4 linked regions of the Homo sapiens genome follow. The protein of the gene in region 1 interacts with the protein of each later gene in a pairwise test. Each region holds a gene or a part of one and is shown on either strand. Other genes may lie near its edges.

What was found.
Region 2: the proteins of ASB9 (region 1) and ICAM5 interact in binary tests that used the Homo sapiens proteins (3 or more experiments, as listed by UniProt).
Region 3: the proteins of ASB9 (region 1) and NUP58 interact in binary tests that used the Homo sapiens proteins (3 or more experiments, as listed by UniProt).
Region 4: the proteins of ASB9 (region 1) and EXOSC1 interact in binary tests that used the Homo sapiens proteins (3 or more experiments, as listed by UniProt).

What each region holds. Positions count from the first base shown.
Region 1 is NC_000023.11:15,263,584-15,267,083, forward strand, and holds part of ASB9 (ankyrin repeat and SOCS box protein 9), read right to left. Parts: intron 1-3,500. UniProt on the Homo sapiens protein: Substrate-recognition component of a cullin-5-RING E3 ubiquitin-protein ligase complex (ECS complex, also named CRL5 complex), which mediates the ubiquitination and subsequent proteasomal degradation of target proteins.
Region 2 is NC_000019.10:10,288,763-10,292,751, forward strand, and holds the start of ICAM5 (intercellular adhesion molecule 5 precursor), read left to right. Parts: upstream 1-1,189; 5' UTR 1,190-1,281; coding exon 1,282-1,363; intron 1,364-2,309; coding exon 2,310-2,579; intron 2,580-2,726; coding exon 2,727-3,047; intron 3,048-3,272; coding exon 3,273-3,560; intron 3,561-3,849; coding exon 3,850-3,989. UniProt on the Homo sapiens protein: ICAM proteins are ligands for the leukocyte adhesion protein LFA-1 (integrin alpha-L/beta-2).
Region 3 is NC_000013.11:25,304,625-25,308,124, forward strand, and holds part of NUP58 (nucleoporin p58/p45), read left to right. Parts: intron 1-2,979; exon of another isoform or gene 2,980-3,016; intron 3,017-3,181; coding exon 3,182-3,324; intron 3,325-3,500. UniProt on the Homo sapiens protein: Component of the nuclear pore complex, a complex required for the trafficking across the nuclear membrane.
Region 4 is NC_000010.11:97,439,507-97,443,006, forward strand, and holds part of EXOSC1 (exosome complex component CSL4), read right to left. Parts: intron 1,754-3,500; coding exon 1,665-1,753; intron 1-1,664. UniProt on the Homo sapiens protein: Non-catalytic component of the RNA exosome complex which has 3'->5' exoribonuclease activity and participates in a multitude of cellular RNA processing and degradation events.

The DNA of each region.
Region 1 (3,500 bases):
TCTCTTCTCTCTCTCTCTCTCTCTCTCAATATAAAGCTGCCTTCTCCAAAGGGCCCTCACATTATCACCCATTCTGTCTCAACAGGCAGGTTTTCCCCCAGAAAACTCACCCCTCCTGAGGTGCCCCAATATCTAAAAATTCACCATAAGACAATAAAATTGTTTTCTTTCAATACCTGTTCTAGCTTGTCTTCTGTTTAAATGTGAATACTCTCTACAGGGTGGGCTCAATTTTGCAAGGATAGAAATATCTCTACAGTTGTCAGTCTTCAGGCAAAACCCCAAAAGATAGACACTAACACTGGGAACAGTGATTACCTGCTTGGTGGAATTATGGGTGGTTAGTTTATCCTTCAATGTATTTTCCTAAGTTTCTATGAGTAGGTATAAATTAGCCTCCTAGGGATACCATAACGAAACACCACAAACTGGGTGGCTTAAAACAACAGAAATTTGTTGTCGCCGAGTCCTAGAGGCTAGCAGTTGGCTAGAAGTCTGAAATCAAGGTGTGGACAGGGCCATACTCTATCCAAAGGCTCTAGGGAAAAATCCTTCCTTGCCTCTTCTAGCTTCTGGCAGTGGCCATCAGTCCTTGGTGTTCCTTGGTTTCTAGATGTGTCACTCCTATCTCTGCCTCTGTTGTCACATAGCATTCTCCATGTGTCTCCTTCTCCTTTTCTTATAGGGACTCTGGTCATGTTGGATTAAGGTCCATCCTACCCTACTTACGACCTCACCTGAACTAATCTTAACTAATAAGGTCACATTCTGAGGCACGGGGGTTAAGAACTTAACCATATATATTTTCAGGGTACACAATTTAACTCGTAACAAGCTACTTTCAGGAAAAAATTAAGACATTCTTTCCCTGCTCCTTGGACAGGAGAGTCTAACATGAAACAAATCTCTATAAAGAGTTGGTTGCCCATTTTTATAGCCTTTCCTCCCTCCCTACCCCCAGGGAAGTGGGCAGAAAAACGCCTGCAGGTGGAGGTGGGAGCAGCAAGATGATCCACACCTGGGCCCTATTTTCCCCTCTAACTTGGCCTTGTGCAAAGGGACAAGCTTCACCTGAGCTGAGTTTCTTGGCACAGCTATTTGAAAACAGCATTCTGAGTGTTCCCCATTCCACACTTCACCAAGGTTAAGACCTCAGAAGCATAAACAAAAGCAACCAACTACAATTGAGGTTTTACCCAAGGGGCAGGACTGATGCAAAGCAGACGGAGAATGACTCCACTTGAGTAGGGAGAGGTGGAAAGTCTAGGAGGGCTTCATGGGGGCAATGGCTCAGCTGGGTGTAGAAGGTGAGTAGCAATTTGCCAGTCAGATTCACAACAGGAGGTAAGAAACCAGAAGTATCCAGGCACCTACCCTTGTGACTTCTACTTCTTTGAAAACTTCTCTTCCCTTAGCACCTGTGTAATTACAACATCCAGAATCTCTTTCTGCTTCTCTGTCCAACTTACTGGTCCTACTTCATCAACTGGAGGCCTGTCCCAGGGTTCCATCCTTGGTTGACTCTCAGCTCTTAGCCATTGGACAATTTCTCCCTTCCCTAGGTTTCAACCACAGCCCCTCTGTAGGACATTCTGAGGTATCTGGCTTCTAACCTGTGATCGTTCCTAAGTCTCAGTCCCATGTCATCATACTGTGCACTGGGCATCATTGTTAGCACTATCATGTCCAAAACAGAACTCTGTATCCTCCCCTCCTCATCCTGCATCCAAGGCAACTTCCTTTCCAACTTCCCTCTTATCTAGCTTATCTGACATTACTTTGGGCTTGAGAACCTTATAATTTTGCCTGCCTTCTGTTAGTTCCAACATTTAATCAAGCAACATACGCTGATTTATCTTTCCTTTGAAATCATCGCCCTTTCTCTGTCATTTCCAAAGTTCGATCCAAATGTAAGTTTCATGGTTGGATTAGTGCAGTAGTTTTCAAAGTATGGTCCCTGACCAGTACCATCCATTTCACCTGGGAGTTTGTTATGAATGCAGATTCCTAGGCCCCCACCCCAGGCCTACGACTTCATCAAAAGCTGCATCATCTGCATTTTTTTTTTTTGAGACAGAGTCTCGCTCTGTTGCCCAGGCTGGAGTACAGTGGCATGATCTCAGCTCACTGCAACCTCCGCCCTCCCAAGTTCAAGCAATTCTCCTGCCTCGGCCTCCTAAGTAGCTGGGACTACAGGCATGTGCCAACACACCCAGCTAATTTTTTTTTTTTTTTTTGAGACAGAGTTTCACTCTTGTTGCCCAGGTTGGAGTGCAGTGGTGTGATCTCGGCTCACCACAACCTCTGCCTCCCGGGTTCAAGCGACTTTCCTGCCTCAGCCTCCCGGGTAGCTGGGATTACAGGCATGCACCACCATGCCCGGCTAATTTTGTATTTTTAGTAAAGACTGGGTTTCTCCATGTTGGTCAGGCTGGTCTGGAACTCCCAACCTCAGGTGATCCGCCTGCCTCGGCCTCCCAAAGTGCTGGGATTACAGGTGTGAGGCACTGCACCCAGTCAAATGTTTGTATTTTTAGTAGAGATGGGGTTTCACCATGTTGGATAGGCTGGTCTGGAACTCCTGACCTCAAGTGATCCGCCCACCTCAGCCTCCCAAAGTGCTGGGATTACAGGCGTGAGCCACCGTGCCCAGCCAGAAGCTGCATTATCTGTATTTCAATAAGCTCTCCAGGTGATGTAGAGGCACATGAGAATTTGAGAACCACTGGATGAATGCAACCATCTCCCACGATTCCAACACAATCTATCCCAGCTGTGGCTACCATGTTAATTGACCTACAGCCTTATTACCAGGTCTCTGTTCTAGAACCACCAATGGCTCTCAATTTCCTGCCTCATGAAGCCTGACCTCCTCCACTTAGCTCTTCAAGCTTTATCTGCCACTCCATCTCTTCAAACTTGTTCTCACTAGACTCCCTAAGACATTCACATTTTGCACTCTAGCTGTAAAAACTTGTTGACTTTACAAGCACCATGCCTTTGCGTATAACACCTGCCCACTCCCACTCACCCACCCTGACCCCACCAGGGTTGTATTAGGAACTTTAGAAATCCTGAACAGTTGGCTCACGCCTGTAATCCCAGCACTTTGGGAGGCCAAGGTGGGTGGATCACGAGGTCAGGAGATTGAGACCATCCTGGCTAACATGGTGAAACCCCGTCTCTACTAAAAATACAAAAAATTAGCCGGGCGTGGTGGCGGGCGCCTGTAGTCCCAGCTACTCAGGAGGCTGAGGCAGGAGAATGGCGTGAACCCGGGAGGCGGAGCTTGCAGTGAGCCAAGATTGTGCCACTGCACTCCAGCCTGGGCGACAGAGCGAGACTCCATCTCAAAAAAAAAAAAAAAAAAGAAAAAGAAACCCTAACAGTGAAAAGTGGCTGGTGCCTCTCTCCCATGTGGAAACAAAAATAAATACAATACTTAGCTATAAAATAACCGTGCAGAAGTCAACCAAATTACCGATTCTTTCCCATAATGA
Region 2 (3,989 bases), on another chromosome or scaffold:
CGGGGAGAGCCACGGGCAGGGGCGGGGTGGGGTTCATGGTATGGCTTTCCTGATTGGCGCCGCCGCCACCACGCGGCAGCTCTGATTGGATGTTAAGTTTCCTATCCCAGCCCCACCTTCAGACCCTGTGCTTTCCTGGAGGCCAAACAACTGTGGAGCGAGAACTCATCTCCAAAATAACTTACCACGCTGGAGTGAGACCACGAATGGTGGGGAGGGGAGGGTCCCACGGACATATTGAGGGACGTGGATACGCAGAAGAGGTATCCATGTGGTGGCAGCCGGGAAGGGGTGATCAGATGGTCCACAGGGAATATCACAAACTCGAATTCTGACGATGTTCTGGTAGTCACCCAGCCAGATGAGCGCATGGAGTTGGGGGTGGGGGGTGTCAAAGCTTGGGGCCCGGAAGCGGAGTCAAAAGCATCACCCTCGGTCCCTTGTTCTCGCGTGGATGTCAGGGCCCCCACCCACCGAGCAGAAGGCGGACTCAGGGGCGCTCCAGGGTGGCTCGAGCTCACACACGCTGAGTAGACACGTGCCCGCTGCACCCTGGGTAAATACAGACCCGGAGCCGAGCGGATTCTAATTTAGACGCCCGCGAACGCTGCGCGCACGCACACGTGTCCTCGGCTCGCTGGCACTTTCGTCCCGCCCCCTCCGTCGCGTGCGGGAGCTGACCCGGAGGGGTGCTTAGAGGTATGGCTCCGCGGGGTCAAAAGGAGAAGGATCAGTGAGAGAGGCATCCCCACACCCTCCCCTAGAACTGTCCTTTCCCCATCCAGTGCCTCCCAAATCTCTCTTAGTCCCCAAATGTATCCCCGCCCTAAGGGGCGCTGGTGGGAGGAGCTAAATGTGGGGGCGGGGCTCGGAGTCCAGCTTATTATCATGGCATCTCAGCCAGGGCTGGGGTAGGGGTTTGGGAAGGGCAACCCAGCATCCCCCGATCCCAGAGTCGCGGCCGGGGATGACGCGAGAGAGCGTGGTCGCCCCCAGAAGGCCCTGGGCCATCATGCCGGCCTCCACGTAGACCCCAGGGGTCGCTCACTCCTGCCAGCTCGCCTTCACCAAGGCCAGGAGCTTAGCGCACGCTCGCCTCCCGCCCCCCCGCCGCCTCTGCCGCCGCCCCCTCCTTGGAAACCAAGTTACCAACGTTAAACCAATCCCCAAGCGCAACTCTGCCTCCCCCACACCCCACCCGCCGCGCCGCGCGGAGCCGTCCTCTAGCCCAGCTCCTCGGCTCGCGCTCTCCTCGCCTCCTGTGCTTTCCCCGCCGCGGCGATGCCAGGGCCTTCGCCAGGGCTGCGCCGGGCGCTACTCGGCCTCTGGGCTGCTCTGGGCCTGGGGCTCTTCGGCCTCTCAGGTAAGAGCCCCGCTCTGGTTCGGGGTGGACAGGGCGGGGGCGGAGTCCCTGGACCTGAGAAACGGCCTCCTGTCCCTCCCAGCTCTGCCCTCGCCTCGCTCCCACGCCTCTGCCCCCACCTCGAGCCTGAGTCTTCTCCCCTTCCCCCTCCTCCCCAACACACACCCGAGCCCCAGCTTCCTGACTCCTCGATAGCCCCTACCCGCTTCGAGATCCTAGGTGTTCTTCCGCACCCAACCCTTCGCCCTGGAGACCCAGTGTCTCTCCTGTCCGCTCCCCGGGTACCTCCTTACGCTGTGCTGTGCACCATGGTCCACGGACTGGCATCTTCCCCACTCGCGGTCCGCGAAGACTCCATCTCTCCAACTACCCTGACTCAGAGGCGCTGTTCCCGCTCCACCCAGAGCCCTGGCAACCGGGTCCCTCAGCTGTTCCCGCGGTTCCTTCCATGAGCCCAGCCTTGCGTCCCGGCTCCGTGTTCTTCACCGGGTGTAGGGTCCTTCCTGATCCTTGACCCAGCCTCGTCTCTCCTTTGCCCTTGCCGCAAACGCACTCTCCTCGTATCCCGGCATTCTGCCAGGACCCTGAGAACTGGTTCATCCCCCATCCCCCATCCCGGGTCCCCTTCTCTCAGCCTTGCTGTGTTCATCCAAGAACCCACCTTTCCTCTCCTCTACGCCCTCCCCCCATGCTTTCCCGCCGCTCCATCGGCGCTTTGGAGACCATGGCTCTCTGCTACCACGTCCCAGAGACACCCTCGAGGTTTAGACTCTGGGAGTGCGCCTTTAAACCGGAGGCCTGGGCAGGACGCGGGACGCCTGGGTTCTTTCCCTGGCTGCAGCCTCTCCTCCTCCTCCCCGCCCTCTGAGAACCCTTGACTCGACATAGGGGCGCTAAGATGTCAGGGAGTTGGCTCCCCAGGCTCAGCCCGCGTTTCCCTGGGCAGCGGTCTCGCAGGAGCCCTTCTGGGCGGACCTGCAGCCTCGCGTGGCGTTCGTGGAGCGCGGGGGCTCGCTGTGGCTGAATTGCAGCACCAACTGCCCTCGGCCGGAGCGCGGTGGCCTGGAGACCTCGCTGCGCCGAAACGGGACCCAGAGGGGTTTGCGTTGGTTGGCGCGGCAGCTGGTGGACATTCGCGAGCCGGAGACTCAGCCCGTCTGCTTCTTCCGCTGCGCGCGGCGCACACTACAGGCGCGTGGGCTCATTCGCACTTTCCGTGAGTTCTGGGTGGCCACGCGCGTACTCCACTACTCTCCCTCCCTCCCAGGCCCCGCCCCCTGGGTCCCAGGGTCCTCCCCTTCAGGCCCCACCTTCTGTTCCAAGTCCCGGTGTTCAAAGAGCTGCGGACTCTTCCCCCTTGCAGAGCGACCAGATCGCGTAGAGCTGATGCCGCTGCCTCCCTGGCAGCCGGTGGGCGAGAACTTCACCCTGAGCTGTAGGGTCCCCGGCGCCGGGCCCCGTGCGAGCCTCACGCTGACCCTGCTGCGGGGCGCCCAGGAGCTGATCCGCCGCAGCTTCGCCGGTGAACCACCCCGAGCGCGGGGCGCGGTGCTCACAGCCACGGTACTGGCTCGGAGGGAGGACCATGGAGCCAATTTCTCGTGTCGCGCCGAGCTGGACCTGCGGCCGCACGGACTGGGACTGTTTGAAAACAGCTCGGCCCCCAGAGAGCTCCGAACCTTCTGTGAGTGGGTGTGGGGAGGAGATGGGGACCCAGTGGGGTCGGTCGGTGTTTAGGAGGTTTAGAGGTAGATACATCTGAATGCTGACCCCGACTTCAACCCTCGCCGGCTGAGCTGTTTCCCCCTCCGTGCCTTGAGGATGATAATACGATAAGATAGTGCATGTCAAGTGCTTAGGACATATTGAGCGCTCGGAGTTAGTTCAAACTTGGTTCTTCGACCCCTAGCCCTGTCTCCGGATGCCCCGCGCCTCGCTGCTCCCCGGCTCTTGGAAGTTGGCTCGGAAAGGCCCGTGAGCTGCACTCTGGACGGACTGTTTCCAGCCTCAGAGGCCAGGGTCTACCTCGCACTGGGGGACCAGAATCTGAGTCCTGATGTCACCCTCGAAGGGGACGCATTCGTGGCCACTGCCACAGCCACAGCTAGCGCAGAGCAGGAGGGTGCCAGGCAGCTGGTCTGCAACGTCACCCTGGGGGGCGAAAACCGGGAGACCCGGGAGAACGTGACCATCTACAGTAAGGAAGGAGGCGGGGTCTCCGCGGCTCCGAGGTGGGACCAGAGGAATGCGAAGGCGGGGCGAAGAGTGGGCGGGACCTCAGTACCGGAACAGGCGTGGCCCGAGGGGCGGGGCAGGTGGGGGCGGAGACGTAATCGCTGGGGAGGAGGAGCCTGTACAGCCTGAGAGGCGGGGCGCCGTACCCTAGTTCGTTCTCAGCACCCCGAGGATTCGGGCAGATAAGGGGCGGGCCTTGACCGGAGGGAGGGGTATGGTCAGTATACTACGACCAAATGCTCCGCCCCCAGGCTTCCCGGCACCACTCCTGACCCTGAGCGAACCCAGCGTCTCCGAGGGGCAGATGGTGACAGTAACCTGCGCAGCTGGGGCCCAAGCTCTGGTCACACTGGAGGGAGTTCCAGCCGCGGTCCCGGGGCAGCCCGCCCAG
Region 3 (3,500 bases), on another chromosome or scaffold:
TCCTGCCTCAGCCTCCCAAATAGCTGGGATTACAGGCACGCCACCACACCCGGCTAAATTTTTTATTTTTATTTTTGGTATTTTTAGTAGAGATGGGGTTTCACCATGTTGGCCAGGCTGGTCTCAAACTCCTGACTTCAGGTGATCCATCCACCTTGGCATCCCAAGGTGCTGGGATTACAGGCGTGAGCCACCACACCCAGCCGGCAGTAATGTTTTAGTATCCCCCAAATACTCATTTACCCTACTCCACATTATACACACAACAGTGTCAAAATAACAATACGATCAGACTACTACCAGCTAAGCTAAATGTTTTGGCATATATGCCCCTTTTATGGTTGTACTACCTATGTTGTCTGGATATAGCCATTACATACTATATTCTTTTGCTTGTAGCGCTCACTTAGGTTTCTGTGTGTGTGATCTCACTTAGTTTTGATTGTAGCAATATGTTGTTAAAAATACCTTTTAAATTAAGACTAAATGTTTAAAGATCTGTGGGGTTTTTTTTTTTTTTTTTTTTTTTTTTTTTTTGAGACAGGGCCTTGCCCTGTCTCCCAGGCTGGAATGCAGTGGCGCAATCTCAGCCCGCTACAACCTCCACCTCCTGGGCTAAAGTGATCTTTCCACCTCAGCTTCCTGAGTAGCTGGGATTACATTCAGGTGTGCATTGGCACGCCTGGCTAATTTTTGTTTTTTGGAAGTTTTTTGTTGTTGTTTTTTCGGTAGAGAGAGTTTCACCATGTGGCCCAGGCTGGGCTCAAGCTTCTGGGCTCAAGCAGTCTGCCTACCTCAACCTCCCAAAGTGCTGGGATTACAGGTGTGAGCCACCCGGCCTGGTCAAGATCTGTGTTTTAATTGTTAGCGAGAGCTTACCGCCCTGCTTTGTCTCCTGCCTCGCCTTCATATGCCCAAGGTGCACACAAACACATTTTAAAAATCAGTACTTCTCCTTTTACCTACTCAGTATGGATGGCACATCTCAAGTTCTACCCTTAATAAGCTCCTCCACCTCCATTCCCCTCACAGTGATTAGCTCTTTGCCTCAAACTTCTGCAGTATCTCTTTGCCATCGTTTGGTACTTGATTATAATCTTACTTATAGTAATTCTAAACTTACTGAAGGTGTGTACATTTCTACTGCTTGAATTATCTCCTGCTTGAGTATTTCTTTTCCTCCTTGTCTCCCAGTGTTTGCAAAAATTTGAGTGGCTTCTTAAGCTGATTATGAAATTGAAGACACCCGGACCCAAGTAACTTGGAGAACTCTTCTGGCTTGGAGTACAGTTATTTGTGTTGTTTATCCCCCTGGTAAACGGCATGTTCCTTGACTAGGGGACATCTTTCTGCTCCCTTGCTATTCCTGGCATAACGCCTTGTACATAATATGTTTAGTTAAATTTATAAGTATCCCTAATGATAACAGTCATAACAACATTTATTGAAGTTAATTCATCCTGTGCTCTGAACCCTTATATTTAAAAAAAAATTCTGCTGGCCGGGTGCGGTGGCTCACGCCTGTAATCCCAGCACTTTGGGAGGCCGAGGCAGGTGGATCACGAGGTCAGGAGATTGAGACCATCCTGGCTAACATGGTGAAACCCTGTCTCTAGTAAAAATACAAAAAATTAGCTGGGTGTGGTGGCAGGCACCTATAGTCTGAGCTACTCCGGAGGCTGAGGTAGGAGAATGGGGTGAACCCGGGAGCCGGAGCTTGCGGAGTGCCACTGCACTCCAGCCTGGGCAACAGAGTGAGACTCCGTCTCAAAAAAAAAAAAAAAAAAAAAATCTGCTAAGTGGGTACTGTTAATTCCTGTTTTGCAGATGAGGAAATAGAGGCTCAGAAAGGTTAAGTAATGGCACACAAGTACCAGAACATGGGGGGATTGGTACTGGAACCCAGCCACACTACTGCTGCCAGGGCTTTTGAGACTTTAAAAATGACATTGGGTTCTCCCATGGTGATTATTCTTTATGGAAGGGCAGCAAAGGAAATAATAAAGATAAATATGTAGGATAAAGAGAATTTGCCATTATGCTGTATAGTCTCCCTTAAATCTCCTACATAATTTTGGAAGTGTCAACTTGTCAAAATTTGCTTATTTTCACAGTTTGTCTTCCCACCTTTTCATAGCAAATCTGAACCCCTGAGTCTTGATAAGAGTAGTTGAAAAGTTGTGAAGTTTGTTCACTTTCACTTGTTTTTATCAGCTGTTCTTTTTTTAAGCTTTGCACTGTGCTCTGAAGAGTTTCTGTTAATGAATACATGATCCTGAGACAGGGTGATTTTGCTTTGCGTTTAACTTTTGCCAGGAAATGTCCCCACTAGTTTTTCTATGCTTTTTTTGGTGGTAAAATACCTAAGTCTATACTCTCCCCAACACCACATTGCCCCATGAATGTGGTAATGTAGCAATGGAAAGCTAGTGAAGATAATTTAAAATAACTTTTCTATGACCATTTAAAAATATGCTAGGTTTCAAACATTGGTGAAAGCAGAATAATTGTGATCCCTACTTATGATTACCTTGAGATCTGGAATCCTTATTGCTGTAGACTGCTTTTCTTGAAATCTGGTATTGTATTTTTTTTTTTTTTTTTTTTTGAGAGGGAGTCTCGCTCTGTCACTCAAACTGGAGTGCAGTGACACTATCTCAGCTGACTGCGACCTGCCTCCCGGGTTCAAGCAATTCTCCTGCCTCAGCCTCCTGAGTAGCTGGAATTACAGGCGTGTGCCACCACCACACCTGGCTAATTTTTGTATTTTTGGAAGAGACGAGGTTTCACCCTGTTGGTCAGGCTGGTCTCGAACTCCTGACCTTGTGATCCACCTGCCTCGGCCTCCCAAAGTGCTGGAATTACAGGCATGAGCCACCACACCCAGCCTGAAATCTGGTATTGTATTTTTTAAGACTACTTTTACATGTGGATTTATTTTTTTTTAAGACTACTTTTACATGTGGATTTATTTTTAAGGAAGAACAGAAACATATTTGAACTTGATGGGTTAAAGGTAAATTTATTTTTCTTTTTGGGTCCTATGACAATGTATTAGATATGTTATGTGAATGAAATTATCTTGAAGAGTTAATTTTTATTTTTCTTAAGTAAATATTGGCTCTAGTAGACCTCCTTTTGTGCATGTGATTTTTGTTTTGTTTTTGTTTCTTTAAATAAGCAACCCTTCTGTGGGGCTCAATTTTGGAAATCTTGGAAGTACTTCAACTCCAGCAACTACATCTGCTCCTTCAAGTGGTTTTGGAACCGGGCTCTTTGGATCTAAACCTGCCACTGGGTTCACTCTAGGAGGAACAAATACAGGTGAGGAGGATCTGATCACATTGTCAGAGAGTAGGCTTGGGATATTCTTTCCTAAATTGTGTCCTGTATCTCTCTTTACAAGGATCATCACTGGTAGTAGACCTTAAAAAATGGTAAATGCTAAGATGAAAAGAAATGCAAGGAATTGGAATTAAGGGCTAGTGATAGGCCCAATC
Region 4 (3,500 bases), on another chromosome or scaffold:
CTAATGCCTGATGATCTGTCACTGTCTCCCATCACCCCCAGATGGGACCATCGAATTGCAGGGAAACAAACTCAGGGCTCCCGCTGATTCTATATTATGGTGAGCTGTATAATTATTTCATTATATATTACAGTGTAATAATAACAGAAATAAAGTGCACCATAAATGTAATGCACTTGAATCATTCTGCAACCACCCCCTCCATGGTCTGTGGAAAAACTGTCTTCCAAGAAACTGGTCCCTGGTGCCAAAAAGGTTGGGGACTGCTGCACTACAGAACCACATCAAATCCTGAGGCTGGAAAGGGCCTCAAAAGTTAGATTATCTGCCTGGCAAGAAATGTTTGTCCTTTCTCAAGGAAGCCACACGAAATCACCATCTCACCCACAAATCTTTTCAATGTTTTATAACCTCTGAGTTCAATCTATATTAAATTTTAAAGTGCTTCCTAAAATGCCTTCTACTTTTTTTTTTTTTTTTTTTGAGACGGAGTTTCACTCTTGTTGCCCAGGCTGGAGTACAATGGCACGATCTTGGCTCACCGCAAGCTCCGCCTCCCAGGTTCAAGTGATTCTCCTGCCTCAGCCTCCCTAGTAGCTGGGATTATAGGCATGTGCCACCACGCCTGGCTAATTTTGTATTTTTAGTAGAGACGGTGTTTCTCCATGTTGGTCAGGCTGGTCTCGAACTCCCGACCTCAGGTGATCCGCCCGCCTCGGCCTCCCAAAGTGCTGGGATTACAGGCATGAGCCACCACGCCCAGCCTGCCTTCTACTTTGGTTTGAGTCATCCTGACACTGCTAAACTTCAGCTTCACTCAATTCTTTTTGCTTTACCTTTTATTTATTTATTTGTTTTTTGAGACAGGGTCTCACTCTGTTGCCCAGGCTAGAGTGCAGTGGTGCAATCTCAGCTCACTGCAACCTCTGCCTCCTAGGCTCAAGTGATCTTCCTGCTTCAGCTCCACAAGTAGCTGGGAGTACAGGCACGCACCACCATGCCCAGCTAATTTTTTTTTTTTTTTTTTTTAAAGACAGAGTCTCGCTCTGTCCCCCAGGCTGGAGTGCAATGGCGCAATCTTGGCTCACTGCAACCTCTGCCTCCTGGGTTCAAGCGATTCTTTGGCTTCAGCCTCCTGAGCAGCTGGGATTACAGGCACACGCCAACATGTCCGGCTAGTTTTTGTATTTTTAGTAGAGACAGGGTTTCACCACACTGGCCAGGCTGGTCTCAAACCCCTGACTTTGTGATCCACCCACCTCAGCCTCCCAAAGTGATAGGATTACAGGTGTGAGCCACTGTGCCTGGCTAATTTTTGTATTTTTTACAGAGATGGGGTTTCACCATGTTGGCTAGGCTGGTCTCAAACTCCTGATCTCAAGAGATCCACCCGCCTCAGCTTCTCAAAGTGCTAGGATAACAGGCGTGAGCCACCGCGCCCAGCCTTTGCTTTACTTTTAAACCCTCTCGTTAATATTTTCCTTTTGTCCTAGATCATCCATGTATTTTTTGGATACTACTAGGGGAGAATCAAAGCACAAAGAAGAAAGAAAAACGGGCAAAAGAAAAATAGGAATTGTAACTGTTGCTCAAAATTCTGGTGTCCTAGTCTATCCTAATCTTATTCCAGTTGCTAAGGTATATGTGAAAAGGATACTTCTTACCGGATAGTTCCTCGAAAAGAGTTCTTAAGAGGCATGGACCCCACATACAGGATGTGTACTTTGGCAAAGCGTGAATTGATGCTAGAGACCTGCGGAATAGAGAAAAGATCAGCATCAGAGTATAAGCAGTTGTCAGCTCAAGGAGGCAGCAATAAACTGGGGATTACTAGGGCTTCAGTGCAAGCAACCCTACTAAGTAGAGAATTTAAGACAAATTAACTCCTACTTCTCTCTGCGTAAGTGACACATGTAAAGAGGAATAAGAGCCACTCTGGCCACCTGGTAGAGTTACTATGGGAAACAAAGGTGGTATGGGTTTTTTTTTTTTTTTTTTTTTGAGACGGAGTTTCACTCTTGTTGCCCAGGCTGGAGTGCAATGGCGCGATCTTGGCTCACCGCAACCTCCGCCTCCTGGGTTCAAATAATTCTCCTGCCTTAGCCTCCTGAATAGCTGGGATTACAGGCATGCACCACCATGCCCAGCTAATTTTGTATTTCTAGTAGAGACAGGGTTTCTCCATGTTGGTCAGGCTGGTCTCGAACTCCTGATCTCAGGTGATTCGCCTGCTTCAGCCTCCCAAAGTGCTGGGATTACAGGTGTAAGCCACTGCATCCGGCTGGGTTTTTTTTTTTTTTTTTAAATCTTTTCACAACTTGCCCTTCAGAGAGGTATAGACTTTTTAAAGTATAGATGGCTAACAATTAAAAAAAAAAAAAAAAAAGAGGCTGGACACAGTGGCTCATGCCTGTAATCCCAGCACTTTGGGAGGCTGAGGTGGGCGCATCACTTGAGGTCAGGAGTTCAGGACCAGCCTGGCCAACATGGTAAAACCCCACCTGTACTAAAAATACAAAAATTAGCCAGGCGTGGCAGCACATGCCTATAATCCCAGCTACTCGGGAGGCAGAGGCAGTAGAATTGCTTGAACCCAAGAGGCCAGAGGCTGCAGTGAGCCGAGATCGTGCCACTGCACTCCAGCCTGGGTGACAGAGCAAGGCCCTGTCTCAAAAAAAAAAAAACAGGAATGGCAAAAAATAAAGTCTTTTGCTTCTCTGCAGAAAAAGAACTCAGCTTCAGATGTTCAAAAATAGGCCTCCTAATCATCCTCTGGCATCCCTGTTTCCCAGACACAGGTAGAACTATGTATTCAGGGAATCAGCTCAGTGAAGGAACTATGCATGCCTGAACTTGGCTGCCTTGATTATTATCCTAGAAATCTGTAAGCCTGCACAGTCCAGTAAAACTTTCTGTGATGACAGAAAAGTCATGTGCTGACCAGTATAGCAACCACTAGCCACAAGTGGCTATTGAGTACTTGAAATGTGGCTAATGTGACTAAGGAAATCAATTTTATTTTTTTCTTGAGAGACAGAGTCTTGCCCTGTTACCCAAGCTGGAGTGATCATGGCTCACTGCAGCCTCAACCCCCTGGGCCCAAGCGATCTTCCTGCTTCAGCCTCCCAAGTAGTTGGGACCACAAGCATGTGCTACCATGCCTGGCTAATTTTTTATTCTTCTTCTTCTTTTTTTTTGAGACGGAGTCTCACTCTGTTGCCCAGGCTGGACTGCTGTGACGCAGGCTCACTGCAACCTCCACCTCCTGGGTTCAAGCACTTCTCCTGCCTCAGCCTCCCGAGTAGCTGGGATTACAGGCATGCACCACCACGCTAAGCTAATTTTTGTATTTTTGGTAGAGACAGGGTTTCACCATGTTGGCCATGATTGGCCAGGCTGGTCTTGAACTCCTGACCACAGGTGATCTGCCCACCTCGGCCTCCCAAAGTGCTGGGATTACAAGCATGAGCCACCATGCCCGGCAATTTTTGATTCTTTTT